Linked DNA regions of Homo sapiens. The protein of the gene in region 1 binds, or shares a complex with, the protein of each later gene. Each region holds a gene or a part of one and is shown on either strand. Other genes may lie near its edges. The genes, in order: TSEN15 and TSEN34. A codon is read from its position in the direction of its gene.

Region 1 (15,113 bases):
AGAGATGAAGGGATAGGCCAGGCCTAGTGGCTCACACCTGTAATGCCAGAATTTTGGGAGGCCAAGGCGGGCAGATAACTTGAGGTCAGGAGTTCGAGACCAGCCTAGCCAATAAGGCAAAAACCTGTCTCTACTAAAACACAAAAAATTAGTTGGGCATGGTAGTGCATGCCTGTAATCCCAGCTACTTAGAACGCTGAAGCAGGAGAATCACTTGAACCCGGGAGGCGGAGACTGCAGTGTGCCGAGATTGTGCCACTGCACTCCAGCCTGAGTGACAGAGCCAGAATCCATCTCAAAAAAAAAGAAGGTATAAAGGTATACATGTCCCAGCTATTCTTAGGAAAACTCTCATACATGAGTACAAGGAGGTACTCACAAGGCTATTCATTAGAATACCATTAGTAATAGCAAAAAAGTAAAAACAATGATGGCCTTCATAATCTAAATAAACTTTCCCATCTAATTTTCCATCCTTTCCCTCTTTTCTCTGAAATTTTATTCATTCATTCATTCATTCATTTGCTGCCTTAAGGAATATTACTAGACACCTACTCTGACTAGACACCATGCTAGGTAGGCAATCATGCTTAATTACTTGCAGTTACCCTACTAAACCATGGTCTCTTACTGGCTAAAGAGACTTTTCCTGTCCTTCCTCTGGGTTTTGACATAATTTTGTACATATCCCTGTTAAACTACTTATCAGTACTCCATAATACTTGTTATTCAATTATCTAGCTACAAAATAAGTGAAGGCAGTCCCAAATCACACATTCAATTAAATATCTGAACAAAGGGCAATTCTGTTTTTTAAAATTCCATCCAACAATTACCAAAAAAAAAAAAAAAAGTATTTTCTAAGCGAATATTCAGTGCTAGAATACTACTTTCATGAGGATGTCATGAAAGTATTTGTTATCATGGTATCCCCAGCACCTAGATCATTGCCTGACACATAAGAGTCACTCAATAAATAATTGTTAAGACCAAAAAGCCCAAGCAATATTATCTGACAAATAATAATATTTAAAAGTGAAAACAGAATCGTTAATTTATGTAGATGTTTTATCACTGAATAAGTAAAAGCTGTTTTCCCTCTTAAATAAAAAGTATTTTTTCTTTCATGGTGAGTTGCCCTCACATCTTCCCACCAAATACTTTTAGGACATGTCCCAATGAATTTCTTTGCTATACAAGGTTATCAGAGACTCAACATCAATCATTTTCTTCTCTGTGTTACTAACACAGAAAAATTCCCACATTAACTATGAAAGGCTGGAATTGCAGCATTACTGTTAGATATATAACATTTTATATTATAAAATACACTAAAAGTAAAAATAGATAAAAGTATGCCTACTACCTAAAAGACTGCCCTGTTAAAGACTGAATAATGAAATCACACATACACACATATACACCCACACATTTCCATTTGTTAAAAAGTTATTTGCATAGTTTGAGTTGAGAAAATGTTATGCACTAAAAGGCATATAAATCTAGTATGTATCAGGCCTCATTTGTGCTACATTCTATATTAGTATTCTACTGTATAATATAGTTAAGAATATTTATATAAAAACAAGACATAAAGATTTAAGCTCTCTCAGTTATTAAATGCAACAGCATCAAAATGGCTTACCAAGTTATCATTCCAACTAATTCTACTTGAAGAAGAAAACAAGCTTTAGCCATTCAAGCTAGAAAAGCATTAATTACCACCTGGAAAATACTAGAAATTAACAATGGAAACAAATTTGTACTTCTAGACTTATGAAATGATTTTGATTAAAATAGGCTATTGCTTTCATTAATTTTATTTTTTAGGAATAAATGCAGGTTAATTTCAAATAGTAGCTCCTTGTCCAAACAAATAATATAACATTAATACTAGCTAGGACAATATTTGTTACAGTAATTAAAAGACAGAAGTAATGAGTTCTGAGGAATGAATTAAGACTCTTGGATATAGGATGGCTTGGAAATCATGCTAGTAAAAACCGGAAAGTACTAGCGATTAAATCTGATGTCAATGCTAACAACTATTTGTAATTCTCAAACACAGAGAAAACAGTAAGGAGCTTCTCAAAGAAGCATATGAATAGACTGACATATTAAAAAACAATTCTCATTATGAATAATAAATACAAAAAATACTTCATAGAAATCTGCAAATTTAGTTTAATATGGCTTTATGAAATATGCACAATGAAAATAACCAGTTACAGCAGCTTTAATTTAGAAGGGATCTTGCATGTACTGGTAATCTAAATCCCTCAACAACAAAATAAGACGAGGAAACTGAAACCCAGAGAAATTAGGTGTGTTGCTAAACATCAAACAAAATGTTAAGTGTCAGTCCCAAGACTAGAACCCAGGTCTTAAGACTTTATAGTCTGGGGCTCTTTCTACTAGACTGCTATGTATTCAGTCATAGTCAGCTAGAAAAAATGTTAAGTATTCATCAACGGTATTCATGCTGGAATTTAAGAGGCTCTGCTCTTTTCCCTACTTATATGCCACCCAAATAGAGCTGTGTTTTCATTTGTTCATTCTTCCCATACCCCACTCTCAGAGGTTTACAGCACCCCTTTACATGCTCAATATTACTCTCCTCCACTATCCTCTTGAATCCATCCTTCCTCATCTCTCAAGAATCTTGCTCCATCAATAATTGTCATCTCTTTTCTATTTTCAGACTTTCTGTAGGACAGCTCACGTGGCAGCTGGCTTCCTTTATAGTAAGCAAGAGAGAGTGCCCAAGATAGAAGCCACAGTCTTTTGTAACCTAATCTTAGAAGTTACATTCCTATCATTTTTGCCAAATTTTATTCATTAGAAAGAAGTCACTGAGTCCAGGTCACACTCAAGGGAAGAGAGTTACATAAGGGAGTGAATACCAGAATTAGGAGAAGCCATCTTAGAAGCTGCCTGCTACAGCTTCTAAAGAAGAAATGCATAAGGGAGGCTTGCTAACCAGATACCAAGACTTCTTACCAAGCAAGCGATTAAGAGATATGGTATTGGCAAAAGGACAGATAAACTGGCTAATGGAATATAATAGAGAACCCAGAAACAAATTAATGCATGTTTGGAACTTTGGAAAGTAGCAGAAGTGATATGTCAGATAGTGAGGAAAGGAGGGACTATTCAGTAAATGGAGGTAGAAAAAGTGGTTATCCACATGACAATGGTATCCCTAACCGCCTCTCACACCATTAAAAACAAGAACAATAGAACTCTTAGTGAAAATATAAGTATTTTTTAGACCGTTAGATAGAAAATATTTCTTAAACTAGACACAAAGACGTTGATTATAAAAGATGGATAAATATGATTATATTCAAATTAAGAACTGTTACTCATTGAAAGACATCTTAAGACAGTGAAAGACAGACTTAAAAACTGGAAAACACAATAAAAAAACTATTAGGTCAAGAATATATAAAGAATTCATACAAGTCAATGAGAAAACTAAAAACAACCCAACAGGCAAAAGATATGAACAGATATTTCTTATAAATAATACATATATAAAGAAATATTCAGTATTATGAGTAATAAGGGAAATGTAAATTAAGACCAAAATAAGAATAATCCATTCCATTGGCAAAAATTTAAAAGTCTGACAATACTAAATGTGAGAGACAATACAGCTCCAAAGGATCTTATTTACACTGCAGGTGAAAAGTAAATTGAGGCAACCACTTTGAAAATAGTTTGAAATTATCTCCTAAAGTTAAACATTAGCAACACTCCATCATCGAGGGAGTGGATGTAAAAATGGTGGTATAATCACACAATGGAATGTTATGTGGCAGCTCAAAAAATGCACAAGAATGGATGAATTTTAGTAATATAATATTAAGTGTATAAGGTCAGCCTTAAAAGATAAGATTTTTTAATTAAAGTTAAAAACATCTAAAATTTAAAAATTCCCAATGTACATGGAATTCAGAATGAGTTACCTCAGGTCAGTGAAAGCACGTTAAGGAAGGGACTTATAAGATTAGATGTTAGTTATTATCAAGAATCTAGTTTTGCTTTGGGTGATGGGTACAGAGATACTTATTACATTATTAAAAATAACTAAGTAAATAAATAAAAACCAAGCATGAACTAATAATGAGAGTATGTCATGAAACAAAGACATGTTTAATCCAATGCTGTGTACCTAAGCTTTTTAAAAAAAGGTCCTAAAAAAAGTCTCTTTTTTAAAGCTTTTAAAAAAAGCTACATGAAAATTTGATTTCAGCTTGCATGTTAATCATGCTTTTCACCAACTGCTATATAAAGTATAATTTGTATTACATGGTACATCTTATAACAGCTGTTATTTCATATGTAATGGTCTTGCTTCCTTACCAAGAATATAAATATTTCTACCATACATACTGTCTCTGAAAAAGTACTGACCATAGAGTAAGTGCTAAATAAATACTTGTTGAATGCTTGATATACTTTGTATATTTGTTCCTGCCCAAATCCCATGTTGAACTGTAATCCCCAATGTTGGAGGTGGGGCCTGGTGGGAGATGTTTGGGTTATAGGGGTAAATCCTTCATGGCTGAGTGCTGTCTTCAGGACAATGAGTTCTCGTGAGATCTGGTCATTTAAAAGTGTGTGGAACCTCCCCCTCAACACTCTCTCTCACTCCTGCTTTTGCCATATGATGTGCCTGCTCTTGCTTCACGAACTTCCTCCATGATTATAAGCTTCCTGAGGCCTCCCTAGAAGCCGAGTAGATGCCAGCACCATGCTTACTGTAAAGCCTTCAGAACTATGAGCCACTTAAACCTCTTCTTTTTTTTTTAAGAAATTACTCAGTCTCAGGTATTTCTTTATAGCAATGCAAGAATGGCCGAATACAACACTCATATTTAACTTATTCCTCAAATAGCCAAGAGTAAAGCTATGAACCCTGTATCCCAAATTTCATTAAAAGTATTACATCACTATGTTTAATGTTTCCTACTGCTTTACTCGGGAAAGGAACTTAGACCAAAATCACCTGCTCACCTGTTATGGCTGAGGGAAGCAGTGATGGGGGTAGGCACCACAGTCTGTAACCCCTCCCCTTCTATCTCAGTACCAACAAGGCAGATGAGCTGGAGTTCTGGTAATCCTACACAGTTTACTTCATGCCAGCTTTTGCCTGAAAGAGCATCATTGAATGGACAATAATGTTTATTAAATACAAAAAATAAAAACTCCAAACTTCTACCTAATACTCAGCTGAGCAAATATCACTCGTAACACTACCTCCTGTCTTTGCTTTTCTAGTAGCTTCTGTTACTCAGTAATTCCCAATGTAAATAAATAAATTGCAAAATTAACAGCAAATGCATAAAAGATTGCTTATTATGTTAAGAATGCTATATCCCAATCCAACCCCCCAAATCTCTACCACAGTCCCAATAACAAAACAATATAAACAAACAACTTACTTTCCATGAGGTCCAGGTAAACCAAGAACGCTACATAAACTTGGGTGGCATCTCCTATATCTAATTCCATCATTTCTAGATACTGAAAATTAAAATATAATTGTCAAATTGAGAAGAAAAAATTATTTAATATTTTCTTCCAATCATCAAGTGGTCATCAAGCATATATAATCTATAAAATTCTTCTAGGTATAGTGGAAGTTAAAAGGCAATATAAGATCTTATCTCTGTCTCTAAAGAACTTGCAATTGTTAAATACATGCACACTTAAAATTGTTAGGCAAATAACAATATATGACTGTAAGTGATTAAAAACCATGTAAATGGAATAAAAAACATGACACAGCAGGTCAGAAGAGCTCTACTCAGAGGGACTGGTGAAAGATTTATAGCAGAGGTGGGATGGGATACAAGTTGAGCACTGAAGAACATTATGATTTAAGTAAGTGGAGAAGTAGAGTAATACTGCAGGTAATTACACAAAGGTGGGATTAAGCCACATACATTCAAGGGCCTGTAAAGAAACCTATCTGCCAGCAATAGAGAAACCTTTTTAATAAAACTTGTGATGGGACATGTTAGTGGGTACTGTGTATTTCCCTAGCCTCTTATTTGTATATGGAGAGAATCTGCTAGAGTATCAGTCCTAGCCTCTCTACCCACTCTTTCTCACTTTAAGAGTAGATTTTTTAAAAGGAATTGACAAGGAACTAGAGAAAGCTGCTTCTTTCAGACTACTGGTCAGCATAAGGGGAATACTTTTCAGGGGCCTACACCTGCAGGAGAATTCTGAGGCTGCCCAGCTATGCCAGCGACTAGGTGGATATGCAGGGCTAATGCTGAGTTGAATTATTAGCAGACCTGCATGGGGACAGGTCTAAAGTCACATTCTCCCATCAGCTTCACTGTAACTGTACAGGTTCAGGAGGACAGGGGTTAATTAGTTGTCGACTTCAAACATGTTTTGAAAATAACACCCAAAACATAATTTTGAGCCAGGTTACAAGGCTTTGGTGGTCAAGCTAAACATGTGATTTTATCAGTATGGAAACACTGAGGATTTCTAAGCAGGAGAATAATAAAATAAAAGTGTGTTTGGGGATAATAAATCTGGTACCATTTTACTGGATGAAACTACATAATTTTTAAATTAACAGAAAGGTGAAATTGGAAAAACAAATACCCCCTATTATTTTATTACTTGTTCTTTTTCTTTTAAAAATTAATTTGATCCTTCAAGAAGAGAAATCAAAAGGGGAGATTTGATGGTCAAGGTGTATACAGCCATTAACTTGAAAAAGAAAACAATCTACAAGTATATAAACTGAATAACACCACCAAATCTAGATAAAGTCTTAAAAAGTTGTTACTGGTGTTTCGCTTATTAAGTACTTATATAGTGCTTTCTGTATGTTGAATGGCTTACAAATATTCATTAATTTAATCCTGTAACAACCGTATAAGTAAGTATGGACTATTAATATCCCCATTTTTCAGGTGAGGAAACTAAGGCATAATAAGATCAAGCAACTTGTCCCAAATCACAAGGTTGATAAGTGACAGAATCAGGATTTAAACTGAGTCTGATTTTGAGTTCATGCGCCTAACCAATATGCTGCCTCTCCATGCTATTGTTTCCCTAAAAGGGCACTAAATAATATTTCCATGCTATTGTTTCTTTTTCTCACCTTTTGGGAGGATGAAGGGGACAGAGTAGGAAGATAAAATTAAGCAAGAGAAGCTGAAAAAGGTTAACTCTTCAAACTTATACCTTCAAATTTTTTCTTGGCTGTTTTTAGATGATTATGAATTATTGCTCTCTAGCAGAAGAGTGCAATTCTGTTAAAGTACCGTAGAGACTAGTTTTTGAGATTCTTACAAAACCCACATCTCCATTCACTGTCTATTCACTGCTTGGAACCGTACTTGTACAAGGCAGTAATGTCTCAAGCAGAAGTAAGCAGAGGACTATCTTGATCTCGCCTGCTGCTAATCTAGAAAAATACACGCAAAATGTGAGTAGCTCTGCTTTGAGCAAGAACCTATTCAAACTTTCGAAGAAATCTGAAATATTAGGAATCTGCACCTTTTCAAAATAAAGATGCATTCTGGGCCCAAGGCTAAGTGTAAACGTGACTGTGCTTAAATCTTTATCACTATGGACCCCTAGATCTTATCCATCGCCCACAAATTGTCTTGCATGGTTACCGTGAGGATTAAATAAATTTATCCCCCAAAGGGGATTTACCTAGACAGCAAAACTAGTGGAGCGCTTATTAGGGATCTCCGGCTTGAGAGGGGCGGAGTTACTGTCTGGCTCTCAGTTCCAAAATGGCTTTGGCTGGGGGATTGAGATAGTGCAACTTGTTTAAACAAACAAAACCGATGCTGCCTGAGGCTGGCAGTTGTGCACACCGGTCCCCCTCGGTGAGGGTGGCGCGCGTCCTCAGTCTCCCACTGAGGAAGAAAGAAAGAGAGCTGCCTGGGAGTGTTCTGCCTGGGTTAGGGGCCTGGACGGCGCCCTGCTCCTCTCGCGCCTCCTGACCTTAGGGTGAGTGCCCATCCAGGCGTCCTCAGGGGCCCACGAAGGAGCTCCACCGCCGTCGCCAAAGCCGCGAACACCGCCCGGACCCAGGCCGCTGCAGCCGGGGGTCGGCTCGGAATCGCCGCGCTCCTCCATGCCGGCCGGTGCGGCGCTCCCGTGGTGCACCACGACCCGCGCCCGGCCAGAAGCAGCGGCGCGCGCGCCTGTGGGTTCCGCTTCCCCGAGGCTCGCAGCTGCAGTGCGAGAGGGCTCAGAAACTGGGAGGAAAGTTGCATCAGCCCCTCCTTCTGACCAAGGTAGCTAGAACCTGCGCGAACGCTCTCTAGTTTCGCTCTGCGTTTATTCAAATCTGAGCAAATTCTAACGTGAAAAATATTAAAGAGTAGCCTGCGCCCTGAAGCTCTTAATCCTCTTTAAGTCAGTGCTGCCGATAACTCTCTGAGAAAGTTGGGGGATACATACGTCCTCTTTGCCTTCAGCAGTGGGGTCCTGGTTTCTGATTGCTGGGGACGGGAAAGGCCTTACTCAGTGCCCTGACATAGAACTTTAAAGTAGAACCATACTTTCAGGGTGGACCCACGTTTCAGGATTAGAGGAAACACGAGTTGCTGAACGAGTGTTCAGAAAGGTAGGATACAAACTAGCATAAGCATGTGATCTGGAAGCCAAGGATGAGGAGTTTCAAACAGGCAGAGTAGCACATTTTAAGTATTTTTTAATTTACTGTGAGTGAAATGGGAAGCTATTGGAGGCTCCTGGACGTTTTCATAGGATCACTCTGACTGATATGTTGAGGATAGACTGGAGGGAGCAAGGACACAAACAGAGACTGGTTAGGAGGCTATCGCATTGACCAGGACAAGGGTGACTCAAAATCCAAAGTCCCAGGCAGGACATAACTTCTGTTTTCAACCATGATAGACTAAGACCCTAGTGGACCATCCCCCAGCAGAAAACAATTTGGACACAATGCAAAAAGCTGAATATACTGGAATGTGAATAGTGGACTGGTAGGAAGGGCAAGCTTGCTTGAAGATCAGGAACTACACTTGGACACAATACAAAAAGCTGAATATACTGGAATGTGAACAGCAGACTGGTAGGAAGGGCAAGCTTGCTTGAAGATCAAGAACTCCACAAGAAAATTCTCCTCTCTTTGGCATTTAGCTTGGGGCAAAGTGCAGTCCAGAAGTCAGGCTCAGCAGTACCAGGGATGCATGTATAAAACTTATCAGTTATTCTTGTCTGGGGAAGCAGAAAAGTGAAGACAGAAAATTTTGAATTCTGAAGAGATTAAGAAATCCCAAGGAAGGAGTCAGAGAGTGGATCCCCAAACTGTCAACCCACATCTCTGAGAGATCCTGAACCACCCAAAACAGAATCACAGCAGCTCAGTTAAAAACAAAAGATCTGAACTGAGACCAGAGCTGTCTCCAAAAGGGAGAGAGTTTTCAGTTAAAATCTAGCCGGGAAAATTACCTACTAATACAAAGGAAATAACACTCATCAGAGAAGAATAATAGAATCCAGACTCTCCACTTAACACTCACAAAGTCCAGAGTACTATCCAAAACTATCTGACATATGAAATTCAAGGAAATGGATCGCATACTCTAGAGATCAACCCTGAGATGAATCAGATATTGAAACTGACAGATAAGGATTTTAAAGTGACTATTATAACTATCCTCAATGAAGTAAAACATGTTTTCAATGAATGAAAATCTCAGGAGACAAATAGAAAATCTCAGCAAAGAAAAAGAAAAAAAAAGATTTTTAAAACCAAATGGAAATTCTGAAAATTGAAAATTATAATTTTAGAAATAAAAAATTCACTGGGTGAATTTAACAGCCAAAAAAAATTACAAAAGAAAAAGTAGGGAACTTGAAGATAGAGCAATAGAAATTATTAAAAGTAAACAACAAAGAGAAAAATTATCTTTAAAAAGTGAGTAGACCAACAGAGATTTGCTACATGTCAGACAATCCAACATGCATGTAAACAACAGAAGTAGAAAAAAAAAGGGACAGAAAAAATTTTTGAAGAAAGAGTGGTGGCCAGAATTTCCCCAAATTTGATGAAAAACACATTTACTAGTACAAAATGCTAAATACATAGCAACTAAAATAAACACAAAGAAGTCTACATTGTAATAAAACTATTGAAAGTCAAAAAAATAAAGAGAAAAGCTTGAATGCATCAAAAGAAATAACACATCATACACAGGGAAAAGAAGGGCATCTATTATTGAATGAAATGTAAAGCCACACATGAAGATTCATATGTTGCCCTCAAATACATTACATTTGAATGAACCTTTGCCACCACAAAGCAGCTGCTAAGCCCGAAAGAAGAAAATGGCACTGAAATTAATTGGGTCATTGAAGCATGAAACACTGACACGAATTCAAGTGATTGGAAGTGAATAAATCTCTCTGACTCCTAAAGATCCAAATCAGTTCATATGATGGCATTTTTAAAAGCATTAAGAGTATTTTGATGCTAATCTGAGTAGAGGGAAACTTTTATAAATCAGTAAGGATATCCAATGGGATTAGGGACTATATGAACCAGCCTCAAACATCTGCAGGGGAAGAATTTCAGCTTATGTTCAAGAAAAAATAATTGGGGGTATGGAAAGAACCATAAACCAAAAAAGCAACAGATAAATGCCATCCTTTGGCAAATAGATTAAATACTGTTGCTTAGAAAAAGCATGATACATTCAAGAATGAGTATTACGTGCTTTTCAAAAGAGTTGAAGAATGAAAAGGGAGTGTCTGTTAGCTTCCCTGTTAATGTAAATTTTTAAATAGGTCTTGGTGATTGTGAATGGCTAAGAATGAACACAAAGGATTTGGGAACACTTAGACAACCCAGTATTTAAAGTACAGAATCAAAATACCTATTGTGACAATCTAGAGTGAAATCCACTAGAGAACAGAGGAGAGTTTCAGTGTCTGGTATCCTGGAGGATTTCTCATTTTGTAAATGCTTCAATAGTTCACTCTATTAGAGAACCAAAGTAGTGAGAAAAAAAAGCTAGATAAGAAACAACGAATGAAATCCCCCCTGAGTATATTGGATTTAATCAAATTCATTGTAATCTGGCACTTGCTGAACTCATTTCCCAATGATATCCTGAGCCAGATCATTTTATTCCTACAAAAATCTGTAATGTCTAGCCAGAGACATATTAATTCAGTAAGAGTCTCGAGGAAATGCGAACACTAAATTGTGATGTGAATCTCTAGTGTGGAAAGAAAATTTAAAAAAGAAGAAGAAAAGCTTTTACACAGTATTGTATGAGACAGTGATTCCAAGCTGAAAAATGTAGCCTAGCATTCTGGATCAGCTTTTCATTCATTGGTTGTAAGGAGGTTCACATATATCTTGTTCCTTTTTTTGTACACAAAACACACAATTTCCTATTCTCTGTGTTTCAAGAACAGAGAAAGATTCAAGAAAGAGAATGATTCAATATTGTAAAGATGGCAATTTCCTCCAAAGTTATTTACAGATTCTATCAATTCCAATTAAAATCCCAAAAAGTATTTTCTTAATACCTGATAAACTGATTCTGAAATGTGGGCATAAAGGGCCAAAAATAACCAAGACCCTTTTTGTGAACAAAAGGGAGAGAACTTACGAAGTTAAAGTTCTGAAATATAAATATCTTATAAAGATAAGGTTTTAAACAAAATTTAAATTCTTACAAAGATCTCTAATTACAAGTATGTGATATTGGCACATGGATAGGTAAAACCAATGAAGCAAAATAGGGAGCCAGGCAACAGACCCATACACATGTGGGCAGATGCAAGAAGGGAAGGAGAGAAGGGGTGATTGGCTACACGGTATAGGCAAACACTTTTAAATCTCTAGGAGAAAATATAAAAGAATATTTTATGACCCCAAGTTTAAGAGTGATTTCTTAAGACACAAAAAGCACAAACCATATGCTTCACTCATGTCCCTGTGAAGACACCACCAAACAGGCTTTGTGTGAGCAACAAGGCTGTTTATTCCACCTGGGTGCAGGTGGGCTGAGTCTGAAAATAGAGTCAGCGAAGGGAAATAGGGGTGGAGCCGTTTTATAGGATTTGGGTAGGTAAAGGAAAATTACAGTCAAAGGGGGTTGTTCTCTGGCGGGCAGGGGTCGGGGAGGGGGGGGTCACAAGGTGCTCAGTGGGGGAGCTTTTGAGCCAGGATGAGCCAGGAGAAGGAATTTCACAAGGTAATGTCATCAGTTAAGGCAGGAAGAGGCCATCTTCACTTCTTTTGTGATTCTTTAGTTATTTCAGGCCATCTGGATGTATATGTGCAGGTCACGGGGAATATGATGGCTTAGCTTGGGCTCAGAGGCCTGACAATATGGAAAAAATTTGGTAAATTTAACTGTATCTCAGTTAAGAATTTCCAACACTAAGAGAGTGGAAGGAAAATGACATCTGTAACACACAATTGAAAGAAAAGATACCCAGAATATATACAGAACTCCTAAAAATCAATTAGGAAACAAAACAAAACACTCCTTAGGTTAAAAAAAAGAAAGTAAACAGAAAAAAAGACATAAAAGGCCAGCAAACATAACTTGATGTTCAGCAACATTGATTGAGTGAGAAAATGTAAATTGAGGCAAGAAGATACCATAATACACCTATCAGATTAGCAACAAAAGCCAAGAGTTGGCAGAAAAGTAGACCAAAGGGAAGATGCACAAATCCTATGATCCAACAATTCTAATCCCAGGTATATATTCTAGAGCAATATTTTTAAATGAAGTGCCAGGACCTGTTAGTGGTTGTGAAATACACTAGTTATTTTAGTTATGTTAGTGGTTAGTGGGTTGAGTACAGTTTTCAAAAAGTAATTATTTAAAACACACATAGAGTTTCAATCAACAACTTGAATGAATCTCATAAAAACTAAAAACCTAATGTATAGTCAAAATGTTAGTTATAGAAGCGTATATAAGATATTTGATTTGTTTAAAATTCTAATATAGCAGCTGTATTTATAATAGCCCAGAAGTGGAAACAACCCAAATGTCCCTCAGCTGATGAAAATATAAAGTAGTATGTTCATACAGTGGAATATTATTCAGCATTAAAAAGGAATAAAGTACTCATGCTACAACATCAATGGACCTTGAAAACATAGTAAGTGAAAGAAGCCAATCACAAGGGGTCACATATTGTAGAATTCCATTTATGTGTAATGTCTAAAGTAGGTAAATCTATAGAGACAGAAAGTAGATTAGTGAGAGAGTAGCACGAGCTGGGAGACATAAGGATTGATCACTAATGAGTATAGGTTTCTTTTTGTGGTGATAAAAATGTACTAAAATTGATTGTGATCGTGTTGCATAACTATGAATACACTAAAAACCTTTGCATTGTGTACTTTAAATAGGTGAATTGTATGGTATTTGAAGAAAAATTCAAATGCAGGCAAAACTAACACACATTTAGGAGATGTACCAGAGTTCTCCAGAGAACAGAACCAAAAAGAGAGAATGAGATTGATTTTAAGGAATTGGCTCATGTGATTGTGGGGGCTTGAAAACCTGAAATCTGTGGAAGGCAGGCTGGCAAGTTGGAGACCCAGGAAAGAGCTTATTTTGCAGTCTTGAGTCCAAGGGCAATCCAGAGTCAGAATTCCTTTTTTCATGGAGAATCCCATTCTTTTAAGGCCTTCAACAGATGGGATGGCAACCCACATTATGAAGCGTAATCTGCTTTACTCAAAGTCTACTGATTTAAATATTAATCACATTTGAAAAATATCTCACAGCAATATCTAGACTGGTTTGACCAAGAAACTGGGCACCCTAGTGTAGTGAAGTTGACCCGTAAAATTAACCATCACAGGAGGTAAAGTTCTAAACAAAATGAAGAGACTGATTAACACAAAATTCAGTCTAGTACTTATCTCTGGGGAATGGAACAAAGCATTGTGACAAGAAGGGACTCAGGGCTTCAGAGTTAATGGTCATGTTCTGTTTCTCAAGGTGGGTGCTGGGTATATGGATATCCATTTTATTAGTAGTATTTAAATTAATGTATTAGTTTATGGATTATATCTGTTAGTTTATATTTCATGTTTATTAAATATTTTTATTAAAATTTTTCTAATATCTAGAGTACAAAGTGATAGTAAGTTAGGCAATTTCTATAAGTAAACAGATGCATATATGCAACCTTAAATAATGCCTGGCTTTGTAAATATGAAAAGACATCAAAAGCAATCCATGGTCCAAAAAATATCCCATGTCTATCTCTAGATATTTAGTCAACATCTGCTATCAACATGGATATTGAGTCTCACTGAAGAGGACTGAGTACAAACCCACATTGAAAATGTGCAAATTAAAAATGCCATATTAAAATTACCCCAAAATGTTAATGGTTGTGGTGGAGTAGTGGATCATGAGTGATTTTTTTCTTTTTTTCCCCCATTTTCAACATTTTTTAAAGTTCTATAGTAAAATAGACTTTAATAAATCATTGAATTTTAGAGCCTTTGGCCTAGAAGGGCTAATACAACACTCCACATTCATGTTAAAATATATCTTACGGCTTATTTACCTTGCTTAAATGTCCCTCCCTGCTTTCTTCTATTCCTCTCTCCTTCTCCCTCTCTCTGTCCTTTCTTCCTTCTTTCCTTCCTTCTTCTCCTCCCCATCTAAAACATCCAGTACAACATTAAACAGACGTAATGAGATCTGACATTCTTATCTTGTTTCTGATCACAGGAGGAACACTCAGTCTTTCACCATTAAGGATGATGTTAGCTGGGGGCTTTTTGTAGATGCTGTTTATTACGTTGAGGAAGTTCCCTTCTATTCCTATATACTGAGAATTTTTATGAGGAATTCATGTTGGATTCATAAATGCTTTCTCTGCATTTCTTGAGATGATCATATGATTTTTCAAGTTTGTTAATAAATCACATGGATTGACTTTTTCTTATTTTCTTATTGTGGTAAAATACATATAACAAAAAATTTACTATTTTAAGTGGTATTAAATACATTCATAATGTTGTGCAACTATTACTCATATCCATCTCCATGACTCTTTTATCTTTAAAACTGAAACATATACCCATTAAA
Region 2 (15,082 bases), on another chromosome or scaffold:
ATCCTCCCCCAGCTCTCCCCATTCGTTTAGAGACAGAAACACAGAAGGGCAGAGAGGACAGGAGGGTGGATGTAGGGACCGAATGAGTATGATTGAAACAGTGGGAGAAGAGGCTCAGCCACATAGAAACACACACCAACAGAGAATGAGGTTAAGAGAAGCTTCGGGTGAAGACCCTGCAATCCTCCACTTTTTCTTTATTTCCGAGGTCCAGGGCTCAAGAAGAGAGAGGTGGATATGAATGAATATGAACGGTGGCCAGGCCAGCAGACACACTGTCCACCTCTCTCCATGACATGGATGTAGCGGACTGGGACAAACACACAGGGACCAGACGCAGAAGGCAGGGGAGAAAGAAAAGCAGATGAAGGCCGGATGCGGTGGCTCACGCCTGTAATCCCAGCACTTTGGAAGGCTGAGGTGGGCAGATCACAAGGTCAGGAGTTCGAGATCAGCCTGACCAACATGGAGAAACCCCAGCTCTATTAAAAATTCAAGATTAGCCAGGCATGGTGGAGCATGCCTGTAATCCCAGCTACTTGGGAGGCTGAGGCAAGAGAATCGCTTGAACCCGGGAGGTGGAGGTTGCAGTGAGCCAAGATCGTGCCACTGAACTGCAGCCTGGGCAACAGGAGCGAAACTCCATCTCAGAAAGAAAGAAAGAAAGAAAGAAAGAAAGAAAGAAAGAAAGAAAGAAAGAAAGACAAACAAACAAACATGAAACAGAGAAATGAGCTGATCAACAAGAGACAGCTAGACATGAGGCAGAAGCTGAAAAAGACTCAAAGAGGAAACAGGTTGCTTCCCCCTCTCCCCTCCTCTCCCTCTCCTCCCTCCACCAAATTCTCACCAGGGCTGGGCCTGAATGAGGGCCCAGGTCCCGAGGATGGTGACCAGAGAATGCAAAGTGTGGGGGCCACAGGTGAACAGGGTGAGCCCCAGGCCCACAGCGGCTGCTCCCCATCTCTTCAGCCCAGGACCTGCAGGGGGAAGGGACAGCATAAGCCTGGAACCTTCCAGAGGGTCCCCCCCCTTTATTTTCCACTGGGGAGGGAGCCTGACTCACCGGCTTTCTTAAAGAGGAAGCCGATGGGGATGGAGATAAGAAGAACCACTAGATACGTCCATTCTTCAGGCGACATGGTCTGGGGGAGGGGCAGAGATTCACAGTGAGAACCCAGGAATCCAGGCCCCCTGCCTCCTCCCTCTTCGAGGATCCAGGAACCCAGCCTTCTAGACCCCAGTTTTTGAGGATGATGGAGTATGAGCCTCAGCTCCTCTCCTTTGAGAACCTAGCAACCCAGACTCCAGCCCCTTCCTCCTTGGAGGAGACAGGAATCCACCCCCAGCCCCTCCTTTGAGCGCACAGGCCTCCAGCTCTCCTGTCCTTGGAGAACCCAGGAAAGTGTGGGGATCTCCCAGCACCCAAGCCCCTCCTTTGCGAACGCAGAAATCAAAGCTACTCCCCGCACCCATACTGGGGACCCAGATTTGAAGACGCCCCTCTTTTAAAAACCCAGAAACGGCACCCCTCCCGGACCCTTCCTCTTCGACAGCCCAGGAATCTAGACCTCCGAGCCCCCTCTTCCAGCGAGGATCCAGGAACCCAGACCCCCTCTTTGGATCCCCCATCCCCCGGCCCTTGTGAAACCAGATATCCGGACCCCCCAGCCCTTCTCCTTCGAGACCACCCAGAGGAGCCCGGGTCTCCAACCTGCACCTCCTTCGGAGCTCCACACCCCTCTCCTACTGAGAACCCGGGGATCGAACACCCTCCCCTCCCCAGGCCCAGGCCCAGGCCCAGCCCCAACCCGTCCCGCGCACCCCAGCGCATCCCCGGCAGAGCCACAGGCGGTTGCGCCAGCCCCGAGTTCCAACGCGCCTCCGGGGCCGCCCCGCACCCGCCAGCCCGCAGAGACCCTGCCGCCGTGTAACCTCGCCTCGCCACTGGGCGCCGCCACCCTGGCCCACCTGAGCTGCTCGCCGGGCAGGAGGCGGCCGAGCAGTCCCAGCCCGCTTGCCGCCGCAGCTCCGGCCACGCCTCCCCCGCCCAGCGCGCCCCCGCGCCGCCTGCTCCTTCTGGGCGCCCGCCGGGCTGCGCAGATCAGGCCGGGGAAGAAGCCACGGTCAGGGCCCCGGGCGGGCAGGGAAGAAGCCCCGGAGCAGAAGCCGAGAGCGCGAGTCGGCAACGGGATTCGAGTCCAGGTCCACACTGGGATCCGAGCTCCGAGTACGTGAAGGGGCGGGCCTTCGGGCTCGGAACAAGGAGGAGCCAAAAGCTTTGGACCCGAAGGGGAACAGACGGGCTCTGGAAAGGAGGCGGGGTCTGGAGCTCGGCGTGAGGAATGAGGCGGGGTCTCCCTTCGGGTTCCTTCGGGCACAATCGGGAGCTTGAGTTCTCCGGAAGCGGGGCCACAAACTTCGGCTCACTTCGGCAATAGTCGAGAACGGAGAGCTGAGGCCACTGTGGGCGGAGCCACATGTTTCGGCTTTCTTCGGAGGTAGTCGAGTCCTTAGGGTCACTGTTCCGATGTGGGCGGGGCCACAGACTCGGCCGGATGTGGGTGGGGCCACAAGCTTCGGTTTACTTCGTAGATAGTTGGGTACAAGTGACGCTAGGATGATAGGCGGAGTCAACAGGTTCGCCAGACACCCATGAGTATTTACAAGGGGGCGGGGCGAAAGCGACTTGCCCTCAAAGGGGCGGAACCCCGAGGGCCGGCGTGCGCCTACGGGACCGGGCCAGGATGACGATCCTCAAGTTCCCAAGTAGAGGAGAGGAAGCGGCAGAGGGAGGTGCGCTCAGTGGGGCGGAGCCAAGGTGGCCCCCGCGGGAGGAGGGCGGGGCTTCGGTCCTGCGAGGGGCGGGACCTGACTTCCCGCGGCGCTGATGGGGCGGGATGACGAAGTTGACGAGGGTGTCGGCATGAGGGGGTGGAGCAAGGAGCGCGTGGCGCGGTGCGCAGTGGGTGGCTCCACCTCGACTGCGAATTACTGTTTATGAGGTGACTCGCTGGTTCTATCGGTGGACAGTGGGACATTCTGAAGGGAGGCAAGGAGGCGGACTGAGCGCTCCCAATTGGGGTGAGCCCGCCCGAGCGGAGAGTGGACGGCGGGTGTCCAGGGGGCGGGGCTTTCGGCTGTGGGGTTCGGTCGTAGGGCGGGAACTCCCCAACTGGGGTGCGCTGGCGCTCGGAGGGGGCGGGGCCACAGGCCGCGAGGCTGCCGGGAGCCGATGACGCCCGAACGCCGAACCTATTGCGTCCGGGAGGAGGCGGGGCTACGGATTCGGCCGAGCCGAGAACACCCGAACGTCAAATTGCTGGCGTTCGAGAAGGGGGCGGGGCTGCGGATTCGGTGGAGCCGAGGACGCCCGAACGCCGAACTTCCTGTGCTCGGGAGGGGGCAGGGTTTTGTACTGTGGGAGTCTGAGAGCGAGGAGGTCCGAAAGCCGAATCACAGTCGTTCGGAAAGAGGAGGAGCGAAGGCTCGAGCGTCCGGAAGAGGGTGTGGCCTCGGCGGTGCCTTAGCCTCCAGAGCTTCTGACCGCTGACGGGAACACCCGAAGGGGGACGCCCACTTTGCAAGAGGGTGGTGCCAAAATGGACCTTTGTAAGGGGGCGTGTCGCCGCGCTTGCGGAGGTTTGTTTTTCACGCTCCAAGGCGCAATGGTAGGTACGGCAGTGCGGGCACAGAGCGGGTGCCGACCGCAGGGTCACAAGGGTAGAGCGGGACCCTGGGGGCTTGGCGAGGGGAGAGGGTCGGGGGCTTGTCTCCGGCGTCTCGTCTCCGGCGGCCGCGAGGCCTGGTGGGATCGCCCGGGGGCGGGGCCTGGCGCTCGGGCCCAGCAGGTGGTGAACGGCGGCTGAGCGAGGCCCCGCCCCCTGAGGCCTAGGGGCGGGGCTTCGCCGAGACCCCGGAGGCTTTGGGTGCGCTGCAGCGGTCCGCGGCGCGCAGCTGTTTCGGTAACTGCTTTGCCTCCCGGCTCCCGCAGGAGGATGCTGGTGGTGGAGGTGGCGAACGGCCGCTCCCTGGTGTGGGGAGCCGAGGCGGTGCAGGCCCTCCGGGAGCGCCTGGGTGTGGGGGGCCGCACGGTAGGCGCCCTGCCCCGCGGGCCCCGCCAGAACTCGCGCCTGGGCCTCCCGCTGCTGCTGATGCCCGAAGAGGCGCGGCTCTTGGCCGAGATCGGCGCCGTGACTCTGGTCAGCGCCCCGCGTCCAGACTCTCGGCACCACAGCCTGGTAAGGGGGCGGGGCTCGAACTCGGGTTCGGTGGGAGCGGGACCTGGGAGTCAAGTTTCCTGGCTTCTGAAGGGACCATAAGCTTGGAGGTTCCAGCGAAGTGTGCTTCTCAGGCCCTGACATCCTTCAAGCGCCAGCAAGAGGAGAGCTTCCAGGAGCAGAGCGCCTTGGCAGCTGAGGCCCGGGAGACCCGTCGTCAGGAGCTCCTGGAGAAGATTACGGAGGGCCAGGCTGCTAAGAAGCAGAAACTAGAACAGGCTTCAGGGGCCAGCTCAAGCCAGGAGGCCGGCTCGAGCCAGGCTGCCAAAGAGGATGAGACCAGTGATGGCCAGGCTTCGGGAGAGCAGGAGGAAGCTGGTGAGCATGGGAGGTGGAGTCCAGGGACCACGGGAAGGAGAGGAGAGATCTTTTAGGAATTTTAGCTGGGAATCCAGTGCCTGGGTCTCCCTGAGGGTGAGAAGACTTTACCCCTTGAATTTACCAAACTCTTCTCTGTACTCCCCACCAGGCCCCTCGTCTTCCCAAGCAGGACCCTCAAATGGGGTAGCCCCCTTGCCCAGATCTGCTCTCCTTGTCCAGCTGGCCACTGCCAGGCCTCGACCGGTCAAGGCCAGGCCCCTGGACTGGCGTGTCCAGTCTAAAGACTGGCCCCACGCCGGCCGCCCTGCCCACGAGCTGCGCTACAGTATCTACAGAGACCTGTGGGAGCGAGGCTTCTTCCTCAGTGCGGCTGGCAAGTTCGGAGGTGACTTCCTGGTCTATCCTGGTGAGTATGGGTTGGGGCCTCTGGTTGCTGTGCCTTTCCATACGATCCCAATGTATTCTGCGTTTTTCTTTTTTTTTTTTTTTGTCTTAATAGAGGTGGGGTCTCTTGTTGCTTAGGCTGGTCCCTATTCCTGGGCTCAAGCAATCCTTCCACCTCGGCCCCCCAAAGTGCTGGAATTATAGGCCCAGCTGCATTTTTCTTTTTTGTCTCACTTTCTCTTAGCCTCTGAAATTCATAGACAGACAGGAAACATTTGGGAGCTCCCGAACTCATTGGGCAAGCAGTTTAACGACTTTTATTAAATGATTACTGTGATCCAGAAGATTCACTTAGAAGTAGTTAGACATCAGGCTGGGCGCAATGGCTCACGCCTGTAATCCCAACACTTTGGGAGGCCAAGACAGGTGGATCACCTGAGGTCAGGAGTTTGATACCAGTCTGGCCAACATGGTGAAACCCCATCTCTACTAAAAATACTAAAACTAACTGGGCGTGGTGGTGGGTGCCTGTATTTCCAGCTACTCGGGAGGCTGAAGCAGGAGAATCATGTGAACCCAGGGGGCAGAGGTTGTAGTGAGCCAAGATCGTGCCATTGCACTCCAGCCTGGGGGACAAGAGCGAGACTTTGTCTCAAAAAAAAAAAAAAAGCCTAGAAGTGGAATAGTTGTGTCCAAGAGCATCTGTTTTAGAGTATCTATAGTGATGGCTGAAATGATCTCAGATCTCCTCCCAGTGGTCGTTCCCGTGGCGTCCAGCCGTCTGCCATTGGTCACTGCTTCAGTGCCTCTCTCCTTCCCCCAGGTGACCCCCTCCGCTTCCACGCCCATTATATCGCTCAGTGCTGGGCCCCTGAGGACACCATCCCACTCCAAGACCTGGTTGCTGCTGGGCGCCTTGGAACCAGCGTCAGAAAGACCCTGCTCCTCTGTTCTCCGCAGCCTGATGGTAAGGTGGTCTACACCTCCCTGCAATGGGCCAGCCTGCAGTGAACTCCAGAGACCTAGGGGATGTGGCTGTGTCGGCAGCAAGAGCCTTTCTGGATGTTCCCCAGCTCTTCTCTGGGAGTCTAGAACATCCTCCTACCTTTCTCCGCGGTTAGTTTTTGATTCCAGGTTTTCGAACACTACATCTTTTTTATGTTCTTCCTTGTTTCAAAGCACTTATTGGCTGTGTTTTTGTAGTTACCTATTTTCACACTGTGAGCTTCCCGAGAATGGGGCCTGGGTTTGATTCATCTGTTTTCTACAGGGTTTAAGTCTCAGGAGGTCTCAATAAACTTGGTATATAAATGTTCATGATTTGAATGTTTGCGACAGTCCTGGAACCCGTGGATGGTCTCATCTGCATGTACAGGTGAGAAAAAGGCCTGGAGGAGGGGGACTGACTTGCCCAAAGTCACACACTTAGTAAATAGCAGGCCTGGCCTTTCAAAATTGGTTTTTCTGACTCCTAAATCTGCACTCTTTCTACCTCACTAAACTTCCTTTTGAAAAGATTTCTATGAAATTTCCCAGATGCATACAAACGTTATAAATAAAAATATAGGCTGGGCACGATGACCCACACCTGTAATCCCACAGAACTTTTGGAGGCCAAGGCAGGGGGATCGCTTGAGCCCAGGAGTTTGAGACCAGCTCTGGCAACATTGTAATACCCAGTCTCTACAAAAAATAATTTAAAAAAAAATTAGCCAGGGATCCCTTGAGCCTGGGAAGTTGAGGCTGCTGTGAGCTGTGATTGCACCACTGCCCTCCAGCCTGGGAGACAGAGCAAGAACCTGTCTCAAAAAATATATATATGTGTGTGTGTATATATGTAAATATACACACATGTATGTATATATATGTGTGTGTATATATATATATATTATGAAAGGAAATGAGTATTGTAATTTTAGGAGTTCAGAGCCTGGGGAGAAAGGAAGGACTCTGGAAGGCGTTCTGCTTTTTCATGGCCTGGGTAGTGGTGAATTTTTTTGATACTGTATATTTATATTTTAGACTCTTTTTTGGATGTGTTATATTCTGCAATTTTTATAAAAGCTAAAACACATGTATTTGTAAAAAATTTGCACTTATGAAATCATTTACCCATGTTTTTGCTTAAGAAAGTACTAGAACACTACCACTATTCCAATAATTACACCTTTATCTTATCAATGTGCAGTTTTATTTTGTCACGTTTATTTTGTCAGTGTAATACATTCACATGGTGAGTCTGGGCGTGGTGGCTTATGCTTGTAATCCCAGCACTTTGGGAGACCAAGGCGGGCGGATCATGAGGTCAGGAGTTCCAGAGCATCCTGGCCAACATGGCCCGCCTCTATGAAAAATACAAAAATTAGCCGGGCGTGGTGGCGGGCGCCTGTAATCCTAGCTACTCCGGAGGCTGAGGCAGGAGAATCACTTGAATCTGGGAGGTGGAGGTTGCAGTGAGCCAAGGTCACGCCACTGCACTCCAGTCTGGGCGACAGAGCTAGACACTGTCTCAAAAAAACAAAAACAAACAAAAACTTCCACATGGTAAAATTCTGGGGCTGAAAGTCTCCACCTCTAGTTCTTCCATTTCTTCCCCCCATGTTTCATTCTTTCTCTTTTTTGTGTGAATTGAGCAGCCTCTGGAACCAGAATAGGTTTAGAGAGACTCCCATCTCCCCTCTTTCTTGCCATTCCCAGTAAACAGACTTCATAGAATCTCAATTTCCTGTAAGTTTAGATTAATTTAAAATATGACACTGGGCCAGGTGTGGTGGCTCACACCTGTAATCCCAGCACTTTGGGAGGCTGAGGTGGGCAGATGAGTTTGAGATCAGCCTGGCCAATATGGTGAAACCCCATCTCTACTAAAAATACAAAAAAAAAAATTAGCCGGGCGTGGTGGCATGCGCCTGTACTCCTAGCTACTCAGGAGCCTAAGGCAGGAGAATCACTTGAATCCGGGAGGCAGAGGTTGCAGTGAGCCAAGATCGCACTACTACACTCCAGCCTGGGCAACAAGAGCTAAACTCCATCTCAAAAAAATGAAAAGAAAAAAAATGACGCTAACCCCTGTCTGGCCAATACTCTCTTTGTGCCTGCTTCATAATTGGCTTTGTAAGTCTATTCTCCACCCTTTCTCCTCTCTACAACAAAGTACTTAGAAGTCTCATTCCCTCTGTCATGAGTCTCTCCTCTGAAAAGTTCCTCATTTAAAACTCCTGTGGCCAGATGTGGTGGCTCAGACCTGTAATCCTAGCACTTTGGGAGGCCAAGGTGGGAAGATCAGTTGAGCCGCTGAGCTCAGGAGTTTGAGACCAGCCTTGGCTGAACATAGTGAGACCTCATCTCATCTCTATTTAAAACAAACAAACAAAAAAAAACTTTTGTGACTGGTGTCCCCCCATGTTGTCAGTCAACAAATTCTATAGGTGCCATGTTCAAAGCACTGTGGATCCACAGTTAGGCCCCACCCTCCACCTTCACTGCCAGTATCTTAGAAAAACCAAACCATGGCTCATTTGATATTGATAGCTTCCTAACTCATCCCCTGCCTTCCATTCTTGCCCCTCTGTTGTCTGTTTTCAACAGAGCAGCCAGAATCATCGTTTTTTTTTTGTTTTTTTGTTTTTTTTTTTTTTTGAGGCGGAGTCTCGCTGTCGCCCAGGCTGGAGTGCAGTGGCGCGATCTCTGCTCACTGCAAGCTCCGCCTCCCAGGTTCACGCCATTCTCCTGCCTCAGCCTCCCTAGTAGCCGGGACTACAGGCGCCCGCCACCTCACCTGGCTAATTTTTTGTATTTTTAGTAGAGACGGGGTTTCACCATGTTAGCCAGGATGGTCTCGATCTCCTGACCTTGTGATCCACCCGCCTCGGCCTCCCAAAGTGCTGGGGTTACAGGCGTGAGCCACCGCGCCCGGCCAGAATCATCATATTAAAAGATAAGTCAGACCATGTCACAGCTCTGTCTAAAACTTTCCTGGAGTTTTCCATCTCAGAGTAAAACTCAAAGGTCCTACTTTGCAGCTTCCTCATGAACTGGCCATGTGCATTCTCTTCCTTGCTTATTATTATTATTATTATTTATTTTTTTTATTTTTGAGACAGAGTCTTGCTCTGTTGCCCAGGCTGGAGTGCAGTGGCACAATCTCGGCCCACTGCAGCCTCTGCCTCCTGGGTTCAAGTGGGTTCAAGCGATTCTCCCACCTCAGCCTCCCAAGTACCTGGGATTACAGGCGCCTGCCACCACGTCAGGCTAATTTTTTGTATTTTAGTAGAGACAGGGTTTCACCATAATTGCCCAGGCTCGAACTCCTGAGCTCAGGCAATCCGCCCACCTCAGCCTCCCAAAGTGCTAGGATTATAGACATGAGCCACCGTGCCCGGCCAGCTTTGTTCCTCTTTACTGCTGGATATTCCATTGTATGGACATAACCCCATTTTATTTATCCATTCATCAGGTGATTGGCATTTGTTTCTAGTTAAGGACAAGGTTTTGGTTTTGGTTTTTCTTTTATTTACCCTTGTTCATGCAGTATCCCCAGGTCCAAGAACAGTTCCTGGCACACAGCAGTCAATACATTGTTGCTAAATAAATGAGTGGCTTAAACTATAATTTTTAAATCAGGGCTGAGACAATTTGGAAATTATAATTTCTCCTACATGACTTTCTAAGCATATTTTAAATAAATATACATACGTTAAGGTCATTTTTATTAATGAAAATTGTAGCATACTATGCACACTTCTGCATCTTGCTTATTGGATATGCCCAGGCTTGTCTCATTTTTGCCAACAGCTACATGGTTTTGCGTCCTATGGATGGGGCATAATTAGATTTTATTACACTTGTACAAAAGGAAAGGAATTCAGCTCCCCAAGCATGCCCAGCTGGTCCTTGGCAACCCATGATGGAAACCAAGGGTTCCTCTTATATTACCCGTGCTCCTTTCAGAGAGGAAGGGCTAGAGGGCTCCAGCCTGAGTGAGAGAGAGAGAGGAGGAAGCATGAGGGGTTTGTGGAAGAGGGCCTGGTGCCATATGACTGGACCATGCTTCTGAAGAGGATCAGGGTGAGGCCAGATCTCATCAGTTGACCCTTGAGCAACATGGGTCTGAACTGCTCGGGTCCACTTTTATGCAGATTGAAAAAAGTAAAGGTTACACAGAGCATGCCTGCCTCTCCTGCTTTGCCTTTTACCTCCTCCACCTCTGGCACCCTGAGACAGCAAGACCAAACCCTCCTCTTCTTTCTGCACCTCTGCCTACTCAGAATGAAGACAAGGATGAAGACCTTTATGATGATCCACTTCCACTTAATGAATAGTAAATATATTTTCTCTTTTTTAGAATTTTCTTAATATTTTCTTTTTTTTTTTTTTTGAGACGAAGTCTCGCTCTGTCACCCAAGCTGGAGTGCAGTGGCGCGATCTTAGCTCACTGCAAGCTCCGCCTCCCGGGTTCACGCCATTCTCCTGCCTCAGCCTCCCCGGTAGCTGGGACTACAGGTGCCTGCCACCACGCCCGGCTAATTTTTTGTATTTTTAGTAGAGATGGGGTTTCACCGTGTTAGCCAGGATGGTCTCGATCTCCTGACCTGGTGATCCGCCCGCCTTAGCCTCCCAAAGTGCTGGGGTAACAGGCATGAGCCATCACGCCCGGCCAATATTTTCTTTTCTCTAGCTTAATTCATCATAGGAATACAGAATATAATACATATAGCATATAAAATATGTGTTAATTGACTATGTTATTGGTAAGGCTTCCAGTCAACTACGAGTAATGTTTTTTTTAAATCCTGAGACAGTGTCTTGCTCTGCCAGCTGGGCTGGGGTGCAGGGGCATGATCTTAGTTCGCTGCTGCCTCAACCTCCTTGACTCAAGCAGTCCTCCCACCACAGCCTCCCAAGTAGCTGGAACTACGGGCACACACCACCACACCCAGTTAATTTTTCTGTTTTCTGTAGAGTCTGGGTTTTGCCGTGTTGCCCAGGCTGGTCTTGAACTCCTGGGCTCAAGTGCTCTGCCCACCTCAGCTTCCCAAATCCCACCTGGGGTTACAGGTGTGAGCCACGGTGCCTGGCCTAGTAGTTAAGTTTTGGGGAAGTCAAAAGTTATATGCAGATTTTCTTTCTTGATTTTTTTTTTTTTTTTTGAGGCAGTCTTGCTCTGTCGCCCAGGATGGAGTGCAGTGGTGCGATCTCGGCTCACTGCAATCTCCACGTCCTGGGTTCAAGTGATGCTCTTGCCTCAACCTCCTAAGTAGCTGGGATTACAGGCACCTGCCACCACGCCTGCCTAATTTTTGTATTTTTAGTAGAGACCAGGTTTTGTCATGTTGGCCAGGCTGGTCTCGAACTCCTGACCTCAGTTGATCCGCCGGCCTTGGCCTTCCACATAGTGCTGGGATTACAGGCGTGAGGCACCGCGCCCAGCCTATATGGAGGTTTTCGGCTGAGCTGGGGGTCAGTGCCCCTCGCCCCCAGACTGTACAGAGTCAGCTGTGTTAAGATATTAAGCACCTTCAGTACACAAGACTCTGTGCTGGTTTTCTTTTCTTTTTTTTTTTTTTTTACTCTAAATCATCAAACCCTATGAGGAAAGTCCTGTTACTTTCTCCCATTTAGCACTCTTGAAGAGGCTAATTTGCCTAAGATCAAGAGCTCGTCAGTGACTGCTGAGGTTCAAACGCAGATCTTTTTTAAGACTTGAGAACCTACAGGTTCAACCACCATTATAAAACCATCTCTGTAATCACGAGGCACCCGGAATTTGTGGAGCTTGGACTTCATCCTGAAGGGAGTGAAAACTTATGGAAGTTTTTTCCTTCCACGTTTCCCCCTTCCAGATGAATAATATACGCGTGTTCAAGATACAAAAATGCATAAAATTTGGCCAGGCATGGTGGCTTACACCTGTAATCCCAGCACTTGGGGAGGCTGAGGCGAGTGGATCACTTGAGCCCAGGAGTTCAAGACCAGCCTGGGCAATATGGCAAAACCCCGTCTCAAAACAACAAAACAAACAAACAAAAAACCCATAAAACTGAACAAGGTAGTTTGTAAGATATGGAAGTACAATGCAGATGACAATAATGACGATGGTAGCTACCACTAGGCGCTTTATTTATGCCACTCTCCTCAACACTGGATAGACTCTCACTTAATCCTCACAAGCTTATGAGGTAGGCGCTACCATCATTCGCCGTTTTACAGAGGAGGACGCTGAGGCACAGAGTGATTGAGAAACTTGTCGAAGGCACTGCAGCTGGCAAGTGGTGACGTGGCATTTGAATCCAGGCATCCGGATGGTGTGGATGCCGTGGAAGAGAAAGGGGCGGGTGGGACTGCTTCCTGAGGAGATAGTGACTGCCGAGGCAGCAGCGTAGGGAAGACAACTGAAGAACACGAGCTGTGGAGACAGACCATCGCATTCGGAGTGGAGAGATGGGTGTACAGACAGACAATAACCAGACTATATATAAAAAGAGAACTCTAGGTCAGGCGCGGTGGCTCACACCTGTAATCTTAGCACTTTGGGAGGCTGAGGCGGGTGGATCACTTGAGGTCAGGCGTTGGAGACCAGGAGTTCAAAACCCCGTCTCTACTAAAAATTTAAAAATTAGCCGGGCATGGTGGTGGGCGCCTGTAGTCCCAGCTTCTCGGGAGGCTGAGGCACGAGAATCGATTGAACCCGGGAAGCGGAGGTTGCAGTGAGCCGAGATCGCACCACTGCACTCCAGCCTGGGTGACGAGAGCGAAAAACTCCGTCTCAAAAATAAAATAAATTACTGATAATAGTACTAATACCCCTTAAGTGGCTATTGATAATAATAGTACCATGGGTGGGGGGGCAACTTCTCTGAGAGTGCTCTGTAAGTATGTATTGAAGATTGAGTAAATACATTTAAAATTCTTAGAACAGTATGTGGCACATAGCGTTCCAGAATGCCACATTATTGTTAGTGACAGAAATAATCTCGGCTGGGCGCGGTGGCTCACGCCTGTAATCCCAGCACTTTGGGGGGGCCACGGCGGGAGGCTCTCTCGAGGCCGGGAGTTCAAGACCAGCCTGGGCAACATGGCAAGACGCCGACTGTTAAAAAAAAAAAATGCTACCCGGGCGTCGTGGCGTGTGCCTGTAATCCCAGCTACTGGGGAGGAGGTGGGAGGATCGCTCGAGCCCGAGAGGTTGGTCGGGGCCTCAGTGAGCCGAAATCACGCCACTGCACTCCAGCCTGGGCGACGGAGCGAGACCCTGTCTCAGAAAGAAAAAGAAAAACCACCGTCCAGGGGCGGAGAAGGAAGGTTCTCCCTACTTCTCAGGTTTCCACTCCCTGGCCGGAAAAAACCTAGTCCTCCCAGGTTAGCACGCCGCTCTAGCCCAGCCTCACGTCTCCACTGCTTCTCAGCCAGCCAACGCCTCTTCTGATTGGCTCTGACGTGCGTGGTGCGTGAAAACGTCACGAGACGCCGGCGTTACTATAAGAGCGCAGCCGTGGCGCTTCCGCGCCTCTTTCTCAGTGACCGGGTGGTTTGCTTAGGTGAGGTGCGGTGGTGTGCTTTTTCTCTAGGGTTTGGGTTGGATGGTGGCCCGGGCCTTCCGAGTTTCCATGAGTAAGCTAAAGACGTTAGGAAACAGAGCAGGGTGGTTGAACGGGAGTGCAGCACGGTTGTGGGGGCAGATACTGACTATGAGAGCGTTGGAGGTTATTCTCGCGAGATCGGATCTGGGCTCCGCGAGGTTTTGGCGTAGTTGTGGGACTGCGCAGGCGCCGTTTGGATCCCTTACGCTCACACTTCTCTCCCGCGCAGGCGCAGACGGGGAAGCGGAGCCAACATGCCAGTGGCCCGGAGCTGGGTTTGTCGCAAAACTTATGTGACCCCGCGGAGACCCTTCGAGAAATCTCGTCTCGACCAAGAGCTGAAGCTGATCGGTGAGTGGCCAAGGCTTCCGGGAAGTGGTTCGGCTTCCGGGAGGCGGTTAGCACGTGGATGAAGGTGCCCATGTACTCTATCTAGTCCGTCCCCTAAATTTGGTACTATTCGTGGTTTAGGAAGGTTTTGTGATTCCAAAGCTGCCAGTCTAGTTGTTGTGCCAGTACGTGGGACTACACTTGTCCACCCCCTTCTCCCCACCAGGCGAGTATGGGCTCCGGAACAAACGTGAGGTCTGGAGGGTCAAATTTACCCTGGCCAAGATCCGCAAGGCCGCCCGGGAACTGCTGACGCTTGATGAGAAGGACCCACGGCGTCTGTTCGAAGGTGCGTATGGGAGTCCACAGCAGAGGGATGGGGTGCAGGGCTTGTGAGGTTCATTCTCCCTTCTGTTGCCTCTGTTCCAGTGATGAGAGTTGTGTCATTGGATAAATGGAACCAGCCTTCTAACTTTTAGTGGCACTTGTGGAGTAGGAAAAGTGTATCTGGATCAGTCTTTGCCCTGTTTCTTAGGTGTGTGGCTTTTTTGCCCAGTTATTGGACCTTCAGTTTAGTAATGACCAGAGCTAAAGATAGGCCTGGCACACCTGGGCACCCGTCTATATCTTTATATTCTGTTTATGTGGCCTGTTTGCTAGTGGATGAGAGTAGACTATGAAGTGGAATTTCTGGGCTAAGTGATGGTGATAACAGGGTTTGCACATTTGCTTGGTTTATTGTTTTTTTAATTAAGTTTTCTCGTTTTATTTAGTCTTTTGAGACGGAGTCTTGCTCTGTTGCCCAGGCTGGAGTGCCGTGGCGCCATTTCGGCTTACTGCAACCCCCGCCTCCTGGGTTCAAACAATTCTCCTATCTTAGCCTCCCAAGTAGCTGGGACTACAGACAGGCGCACGCCACCACACCTGGCTAATTTTACTTTTGAGACGGAGTCTCGCTCCATTGCCCATGCTGGAGTGTAGTTGTCGCAATCTTGGCTCACTGCAAACTCCGCCTCCAGAGTTCAAGCGATTCTCCTGTCTTAGCCTCCTAAGTAGCTGGAATCACAGGCATGGGCCACCAAGCCTGGCTAATTTTCTATTATTAGTGGAGATGGGTTTTCACCATGTTGTCCAGGCTGGTGCTTGTTTTTTTAAGCTGGTCAAGGACATTTAGGTGGTATTTAGCAA

Evidence for each region.
Region 2: the proteins of TSEN15 (region 1) and TSEN34 are in contact, whole or in part, in a crystal structure (PDB 6Z9U), measured with the Homo sapiens proteins. Residues at the interface, in NP_443197.1 of Homo sapiens: Leu70 (codon at 5,460), Lys74, Trp76, Thr108, Pro109, Ile110, Thr111, Ala112, Ser113, Leu114, Ser115, His116, Asn117, Ile119, Arg120, Leu123, Leu141, Ile143, Val151, Tyr152, Tyr153, Lys154, Leu155, Thr156, Asp157, Gly158, Phe159, Met160, Leu161, Pro162; in NP_001070914.1 of Homo sapiens: Pro251 (codon at 5,814), Leu252 (codon at 5,817), Arg253 (codon at 5,820), Phe254 (codon at 5,823), His255 (codon at 5,826), Ala256 (codon at 5,829), His257 (codon at 5,832), Tyr258 (codon at 5,835), Pro265 (codon at 5,856), Glu266 (codon at 5,859), Asp267 (codon at 5,862), Thr268 (codon at 5,865), Ile269 (codon at 5,868), Pro270 (codon at 5,871), Leu271 (codon at 5,874), Gln272 (codon at 5,877), Leu274 (codon at 5,883), Ser283 (codon at 5,910), Val284 (codon at 5,913), Arg285 (codon at 5,916), Lys286 (codon at 5,919), Thr287 (codon at 5,922), Leu289 (codon at 5,928), Leu290 (codon at 5,931), Cys291 (codon at 5,934), Ser292 (codon at 5,937), Gln294 (codon at 5,943), Val300 (codon at 5,961), Tyr301 (codon at 5,964), Thr302 (codon at 5,967).

Annotation. Positions count from the first base shown.
Region 1 is NC_000001.11:184,044,773-184,059,885, reverse strand, and holds the start of TSEN15 (tRNA-splicing endonuclease subunit Sen15), read right to left. Parts: upstream 8,157-15,113; 5' UTR 8,131-8,156; coding exon 7,996-8,130; intron 5,533-7,995; coding exon 5,451-5,532; intron 5,159-5,450; coding exon 5,023-5,158; intron 1,726-5,022; exon of another isoform or gene 1,646-1,725; intron 1-1,645. UniProt on the Homo sapiens protein: Non-catalytic subunit of the tRNA-splicing endonuclease complex, a complex responsible for identification and cleavage of the splice sites in pre-tRNA. It cleaves pre-tRNA at the 5' and 3' splice sites to release the intron.
Region 2 is NC_000019.10:54,187,367-54,202,448, forward strand, and holds TSEN34 (tRNA-splicing endonuclease subunit Sen34), read left to right. Parts: upstream 1-3,941; 5' UTR 3,942-3,998; coding exon 3,999-4,241; intron 4,242-4,354; coding exon 4,355-4,598; intron 4,599-4,749; coding exon 4,750-5,007; intron 5,008-5,808; coding exon 5,809-5,996; 3' UTR 5,997-6,255; coding exon of another isoform or gene 6,256-6,305; 3' UTR 6,306-7,166; downstream 7,167-15,082. Other genes in the region: membrane-bound acylglycerophosphatidylinositol O-acyltransferase MBOAT7, read right to left, coding at 851-980, 1,067-1,142; RPS9 (small ribosomal subunit protein uS4), read left to right, coding at 13,819-13,915, 14,121-14,243. UniProt on the Homo sapiens protein: Constitutes one of the two catalytic subunit of the tRNA-splicing endonuclease complex, a complex responsible for identification and cleavage of the splice sites in pre-tRNA. It cleaves pre-tRNA at the 5'- and 3'-splice sites to release the intron.